Homo sapiens: one gene and its partner. The protein of the gene in region 1 interacts with the protein of each later gene in a pairwise test. Each region holds a gene or a part of one and is shown on either strand. Other genes may lie near its edges.

Region 1 (3,500 bases):
TTTGGGGAAACTGAAGTCAAATTGACCTTCTATCTGAGTCATTCTCAGTATTACAGTAATGACCAGATGTGCCCTTCTGGAGGAGACGGGCTCTATCTGCCTGTCTCTTAGCTCCATTTCAGGCTAAGATCCTTCACAAAGCAGTGTTTTCAAGTCATGGAAGTGGGAAAAGTGGTTCTGGCTTTTTCCAGGTTTGAGACTATTTCCGTGCCTCATGCTTTAGTGAGGGGAACACAGGTTTTCCTGGCAAAGCATGGCAGCTTTGGGGCAGGAATTCTTGACATCCTCAGAGAGCTTGGTGAAGCTGTAGTCAGCTGAGATAATTTGGGGATGTGGGCATAGTAAATTCATTTTTTTAAACCTGATGTCTTAGACAGAGAGGTAGGAAGCTTTTCAATTGAAGGAGGGATATGATATTCCAGAAAGCTTGGGAAATAATTTGCTGCTATTTTTACAAGTTGGCAGCCTTGTTTAATAAACTGATCTGCACTGCCAGCTCTGGGAAGAACACAGATGTCCCTGTGCATTGTAAGGTAACGTTCTAGATTCAAACTCCAAATGTCCTCAGTCTGTTGTCCCAGATGATAGAAGAGAGAACTGTAGCTATTGATTTAGAATTGAGAAGGGTTGCATGGATCCTGAGTTGTAATTTCTCTTTTTTTTTTTTTTTTTTTTGAGATGGAGTCTCGCTCTGTCACCCAGTCTGGAGTGCAGTGGCGCGTCTCGGCTCACTGCAAGCTCCGCCTCCCAGGTTCATGCCATTGTCCTGCCTCAGCCTCCCGAGTAGCTGGGACTACAGGCGCCTGCCACCACGCCCAGCTAATTTTTTTTTTTTTTTTTGTATTTTTAGTAGAGACGGAGTTTCACCGTCTTAGCCAGGATGGTCTCGATCTCCTGACCTCATGATTCGCCCACCTCAGCCTCCCAAAGTGCTGGGATTACAGGCATGAGCCACCACGCCTGGCCCTGAGTTGTAATTTCTATCAGTATGTCTATGCTATTGCCCCTAGACACTTGGCATTTAAGAATTTACCATTCATAGTTTCAGATATCCACATCAGACCTCATACGCTCATGATATATGGTAAATATTATTTTGCTGAGGTATGGATTTGAGTCATAATGGGTTGCAAGCTTGCTGTGTGAGAGTAGGTCACTCAGCTAATAAATCAATCTATCCCACTCTATAGCAGCAGAATCTCATAACTATATTAGTGTTCCTTCTGTGTTATGGAGAAAATGCGTATGCTATAAGGCAGCATTCCCCAGAGCGTGGTCAAGGGAACATTAGTTAATCATTGTTATGTGACAGTAAAAAATAGCTTGAAATAATGTTGGGTTAAATAAAGTAAAAATATCTGTACTTCAAGGTTCCACTATGTTTGAGCTGTGTGACCTTGAGCAAGTTTTTCTGAGCATTCGTTTCCTCATCTGTAAAATAGGATAATAAAAATATTACCACTTCATAGTGTCATCATGAAGATTAAAAGAGATTAAGCATATAAAGTATCTGTCATAGTAACTAGCATATAATAGGCACTAGATGCATAGTTTCCCTTGCAGTACAAAGGAAGTGGGATATCAGGGAGGAAGGATTAACTTTAGATAATTGTGCATGTCTGCTGCTATATATTTGTCAGATTGCATTCCAAAGCTAATATGGTAGAAATTTGTTGTAATGTATATCTCTACATTAACTCCCCTTCTTCTCTATGCCTGGAGAAAGAGTTGATGTCATGTGCAAAGTGTTCTTGAGCTAAATGCATTGTCCTTAAAATCAAACGAACTTGCCCTCCACTTCCTCCTTCTCCTGGGTGGTTGACCATCTGCAGATCACAAGACTGCACAGATACAGCTGTAGGATTTGCGTTTATGAAATGCTGACTTTATCATATGCCTCAACTTGCTAGACCTATTCATTCTGATTTGGGGTATACGTTGACAGTGACCTAAGGCTACAGAGCACTGAGATCTCTCTGGGTCAACTTCATAAGTATATGTATATCAAGAGGGTTGGAGTGTTCATGGTTTGTATTGGGTGACGCAGAGGGTACTCTAAGCCAGAAATAAACTGTCTTGATAAGGCACTGCTATTTTTTAAATCATCTAGGCTTGAGTCTTTGGCTATCTCTGCTCTTCACCACTCCCCCACCATAATCCACTCACCTTTCAAATCTTACTGACTATACTTCTGGATATTGCTCAAATGAATCTTTCCATTTCCACCACCTGCTCCCTAGTTCAGACTCCCCATTATCCCCGTCTTCTCTGATGTTTCCCCACTCCATTCCTGCTTTGATCATATCATCTTCCTGCTTCAAAACATTCATCACCTCACCATGCCCTTGAAAATGACGCTCAAAAATCTCATTTTGGCTCTGAAGACCTTTTATAATTATTCCCCCAATTTACCTTTCCAAGTCTGTTACTCTATTCCCCATATATACTCCCACAGTTTTAATCTAAGGATAATAAAAAAGAGAACTAAAATTCATTAAAGGCTTTTTTGGTGCAGAGCCAAATCTTAGCATTCTATACACTCTATATATTATTTCATTCTTACATTAACTCTGTAAAGACAGTATTTTTCCATTTTAAAGGTGGAGAAAATAAAATGCATAGAGTTTAAGTATTCTCTGTTTTCTTTCTAATACATGAAACTTCTTGTCCTTTCCTTTGCCTTTTATACTTTGTTAAGGTTGTGCCTTTTGCCCACTTCTTTCTTCCCTCTCCATGTATTTATGCATCTTTCCAGGCCAATATAAAATGTCATCTTCCCTTTGAAAATTCTGTATCCCTTCAGATTGGAATGACTCCTCAACCCCCATCAAACTTAGTTTTTATTTCGTTTATAGTACCACTTTCTGCCTTCATTATTATTTACCTACATGTCTTGTCTTTTATAAAGTTTGAATATCTGAAGAGCAGGATCTGTATCCTAAAGACCTCTTGTATCTAGTACAGAACAAGATACCTAAACTTAGATGGGTGGATAGGTGAGTAAGTAGGAGGATAGATGCGTGGAAAATGTGTATTTTCTGATCTGATGTTTTGCAGATCACCTAAAACTAATCATCACAATTTTCTGCTTCTGTGGATGATTCCTAGGCCCCCAAACATGACACAATAAACTCTGTGACATGATTAAAAAAAAAAAAAAAAGCCTCCACACTTTTGCTTACATGGTTTTCTTTGCTTAAAGTACCTTTATCCTCATTCCTTCATTTCTTTCAAGACATATCTTAGGAGTGAAACTGCTTTTGGGAAGCCTTCCCCAAGTCTGTTAGGTAGAATCCATCATTCCATCCACTGTACTCCAGCAGAACATTATGTGGACTTGCATGTTATACTTATTCCTTTTACTGTGCATAATTCTCCTGTGCTTTTCTCTTAGTGTAAATCAGAAGTTGTAAAATTCACCAAATATGAAAATAATCATTAGCTCATTAGCATTTATTACAAGTATACTACTTCCCTGGTGCTATACTAAGCACATCATA
Region 2 (3,500 bases), on another chromosome or scaffold:
CATTTACACACTAATGCTTCTAGCAGCACTATGAGGTAGACCAAGCTTGTCTAACCTGCAGCCTATGGGCTGCATGTGGCCCAAGACAGCTTTAAATGCAGCCCAACACAAATTTGTAAACTTTCTTAAAACATTATGAAATTTTTTTGTGATTTTTTTTTTTTTTAGCTTATCAGCAATCGTTAGTGTTAGTGTATTTTATGTGTGGCCCAAGACAATTCTTCTTCCAGTGTGGCCCAGGGAAGCCAAAAGATTGGACACCCTGGAGTTAGATACTCCAGTTATCTCCATTTTATAAAAGAGCAGAGTGAGGTTGCCGAGGGGAGGGGCTGAGATTGGAACCAGGCGCTTACCTGCTCCTGCCTGCATTGCTCTCCTGCCTGCATTGCTCTCCTGCCTCTGATGTTCTCTGTTCTCCACAATATCCTGCAGCAGTTTACCTGGTTCCCATTCACTTCTCTGGGAACTTCTTGAGGGTGAGAACTTATCTTTTTCATCTTTGCATCTGCAGTTCAGCAGCACAGTCTTTCACATAGAATAGATAATGTGTGGTTCAAAAAAACTGATATGGGACTGGGCACAGTGGCTCACACCCATAATCCCAGCACTTTGGGAGGCAGAGGCAGGGAGATCACTTGAGGCCAGGAGTTCGAGACCAGCCTGGTCAACATGGTGAAACCCCATCTCTACTAAAAATACAAAAATTAGCTGGGTGTGGTGGCGCGCCTGTAATCCCAGCTACTCGGGAGGCTGAGGTGGGAAAATCACTCGAACCCCGGAGGTGGAGGTTGCAGTGAGCTGGGATTGTGCCACTGTGCTCCAGCCTGGGTGACAGAGAGAGACTCTGTCTCAAAACAACAACAACAACAAACCTGTAATATGAATTAGAAGATGTTAAGAGAGAAACAGAATTTGGATAAGGCGGAGATTCTGGCAGGGGGTGGGAGAAGATAAAAAATTGATTCGTGGGAAGAAAGCCTTTAGCTGGAGCTTGTGTGGTAGAAAGAGGTAGAGAAGGTTGCTGCAGATGGAGGGGAATGACATGAGCAGACCCATTGGGAGGCAGTGGTGGACTGTTTGGGGGCGTGGAGGATAGGATGTATCTGGGGAAGTCCAGAGAATAGGCATTCATTTTTGAATCTTTCTGTTTTGCTAAGACAGACTTAGAGCCAAAGGCAGCACTCAGGCTTTTAAAGGCACAGCATCCCTAGTCTTAAGTATTGTTCTTACCTCAGGATTTATACAGGGCTCAAGTAGAATGATATTTGAGAAAGAAAGTGCCTTTTAAACTCTAAGATATTGTAGAAATATAAGTTGGTATTACTAATGTTGCTAGGTTGCTTTGATTTCACAGTGCTGTTCTCTATGAGAGCGTTTTTCTTTGGAAGAACTCAGAGCACCACATTGCTCATGTCCCTTGATCACCTCCCTGAAATCCCTTTCAGCTCATCGCTGGTGTTGGGCAGTACCTTGAGTCTGAGAGTGAGGGTGAGAATTAACATCCACACTGTGACAGAGCTGTGTGGGAAAAGCTGTCTTTTTCTTTCTCCCTTAGTGGCTACAGATGAAAGCTTGGCTAACTTCTTTTTTTAAAAAATAGTTTTTCCTTTCTTTTAATTGCAAAAGTGGTTCCAAACTAGAAATTAAAGTCCTCCTTCTCCTCTCCAGGCTGACCCCCAGAAGCCTCCTTTGTTACTAGTTTGGAGCAGATCCTTGCAGACGTTTTCCTCTGCATTCACATGCATGCAAATGTACTTCTGAATGCGCACGTATGTCTTTATATACAGATAGCTTTTAACAAATAGCAGGTGGGGCCGGCACTGTGGCTCACACCTGTAATTCCAGGACTTTGGGAGGCTGAGGCGGGGGGATCACTTGAGGCCAGAAGTTGGAGACCAGCCTGGCCAACATGGTGAAACACCATCTCTACTAAAAATACAAAAATTAGCTGGGCGTGGTGGCGGGTGTCTGTAGTCCCAGCTACTCAGGAGGCTGAGGCAGGAGAATCGCTTGAACCCAGGAGGCGGAGGTTGCAGTGAGCTGAGATTATGCCACTGCACGCCAGCCTGGGTGATAGAGCAAGACTCTGTCTCAATTAAAAAAAATATGTGGGGCCAGGCACCGTGGCTCACACCTGTAATCCTAGCACTTTTGGAGACTGAGGCGGGTGGATCGCCTGAGGTCAGGGGTTCAAGACCAGCCTTGCCAGCATGATGAAACCCTATCTCTACTAAAAATACAAAAAATTAGCTGGGCATCGTGGTGCGCGCTTGTAATCCCAGCTACTCGGGAGGCTGAGGCAAGAGAATTGCTTGAACCCGGCAGGTGGAGGTTGCAGTGAGCTGAGATCATGCCACTGCACTCCAACCTGGGTGACGAGAGTAAGACTCCATCTCAAAAAAAAAAAAAAAAAAAAAGTTTCCTAGAGGTAAAATTGCAGTTTCAGAGGATGTGCATTTAATGACTATGAACATTTCCATTATTTAACCATTTCCCTATCTGTGGACATTTAGTCTGTTTTCATGTTTTCAGGGTGTTGTGTTTGCTTTATTCTATTTTGCTATTATAAGGAGGGCTGTAGCAGTCCTATATCCTTTTTAGTGATAAGGTATGTGTCTGAATACTGGGATTTCATCATTATGAAGTAACTTGGTTAACTTCAGCAACTTTTACTTTTAGGATTACCATGTTGTTTTGCTTCATGTTTCAAGTGGAGGACAGAACTTCATTTATGATCTCGATACTGTCTTGCCATTTCCCTGCCTCTTTGACACTTATGTAGAAGATGCCTTTAAGTCTGATGATGACATTCACCCACAGTTTAGGAGGTGAGGACATTCAAGATGGATTTACTTATTTTCTGAAGTAAGAATTTGACGATTCCACAGAGGTTCTTTTTTTTTTTGACAATTGTTTTGTAAAGATCTCGTCTGACATCACCATTGAGTTGATGTTTAAGAATGATGTATTTGCAACACAGGAGATTCAAAATGTTTTAAAGCTTTAAAAGTTATCTATCATATGAAAGGTTGTCATTCTTTTAAAATTTTGTGTGATGAGATCTCAGACATTTAATTTCAAGCGGGTTGGGGATTTTTCTTATATTCTTTTTGTTTTTGTGGGGATACCTCGTGCTGTCACCATTGAGAGGGCTGTGAGGGCAGCATCAGAAAATCATGCCCATTGCCCTTGATACACAAATCGAGTAAATCGAGGCAACCAGATATATTTTTGTGCCTTTGCCTTTCTGTTTCGGGGTTTGGTTGATCATTTCCTATGCTTCTCTAATAGGTAGTAAAGTTGCCTGTATTACTAACCATACAGAAATGCATGAGTAGTTTTGTGCATGTCATAGGAAATGAGTCGATATAAAAATGGAGTTAGAATTTCAAACATGACATCTCCCTAATGTGAGTGTATATTGATTTTTCTGCAGGAAATTTAGAGTGATCCGTGCAGATTCATATTTGAAGAACTTTGCTTCTGACCGATCTCACATG

Evidence for each region.
Region 2: the proteins of TRIM32 (region 1) and NTAQ1 interact in binary tests that used the Homo sapiens proteins (3 or more experiments, as listed by UniProt).

The regions. Positions count from the first base shown.
Region 1 is NC_000009.12:116,693,805-116,697,304, forward strand, and holds part of TRIM32 (E3 ubiquitin-protein ligase TRIM32), read left to right. Parts: intron 1-3,500. UniProt on the Homo sapiens protein: E3 ubiquitin ligase that plays a role in various biological processes including neural stem cell differentiation, innate immunity, inflammatory resonse and autophagy.
Region 2 is NC_000008.11:123,433,774-123,437,273, forward strand, and holds part of NTAQ1 (protein N-terminal glutamine amidohydrolase), read left to right. Parts: intron 1-1,668; exon of another isoform or gene 1,669-1,739; coding exon of another isoform or gene 1,740-1,769; intron 1,770-2,679; coding exon 2,680-2,828; intron 2,829-3,436; coding exon 3,437-3,500. UniProt on the Homo sapiens protein: Mediates the side-chain deamidation of N-terminal glutamine residues to glutamate, an important step in N-end rule pathway of protein degradation.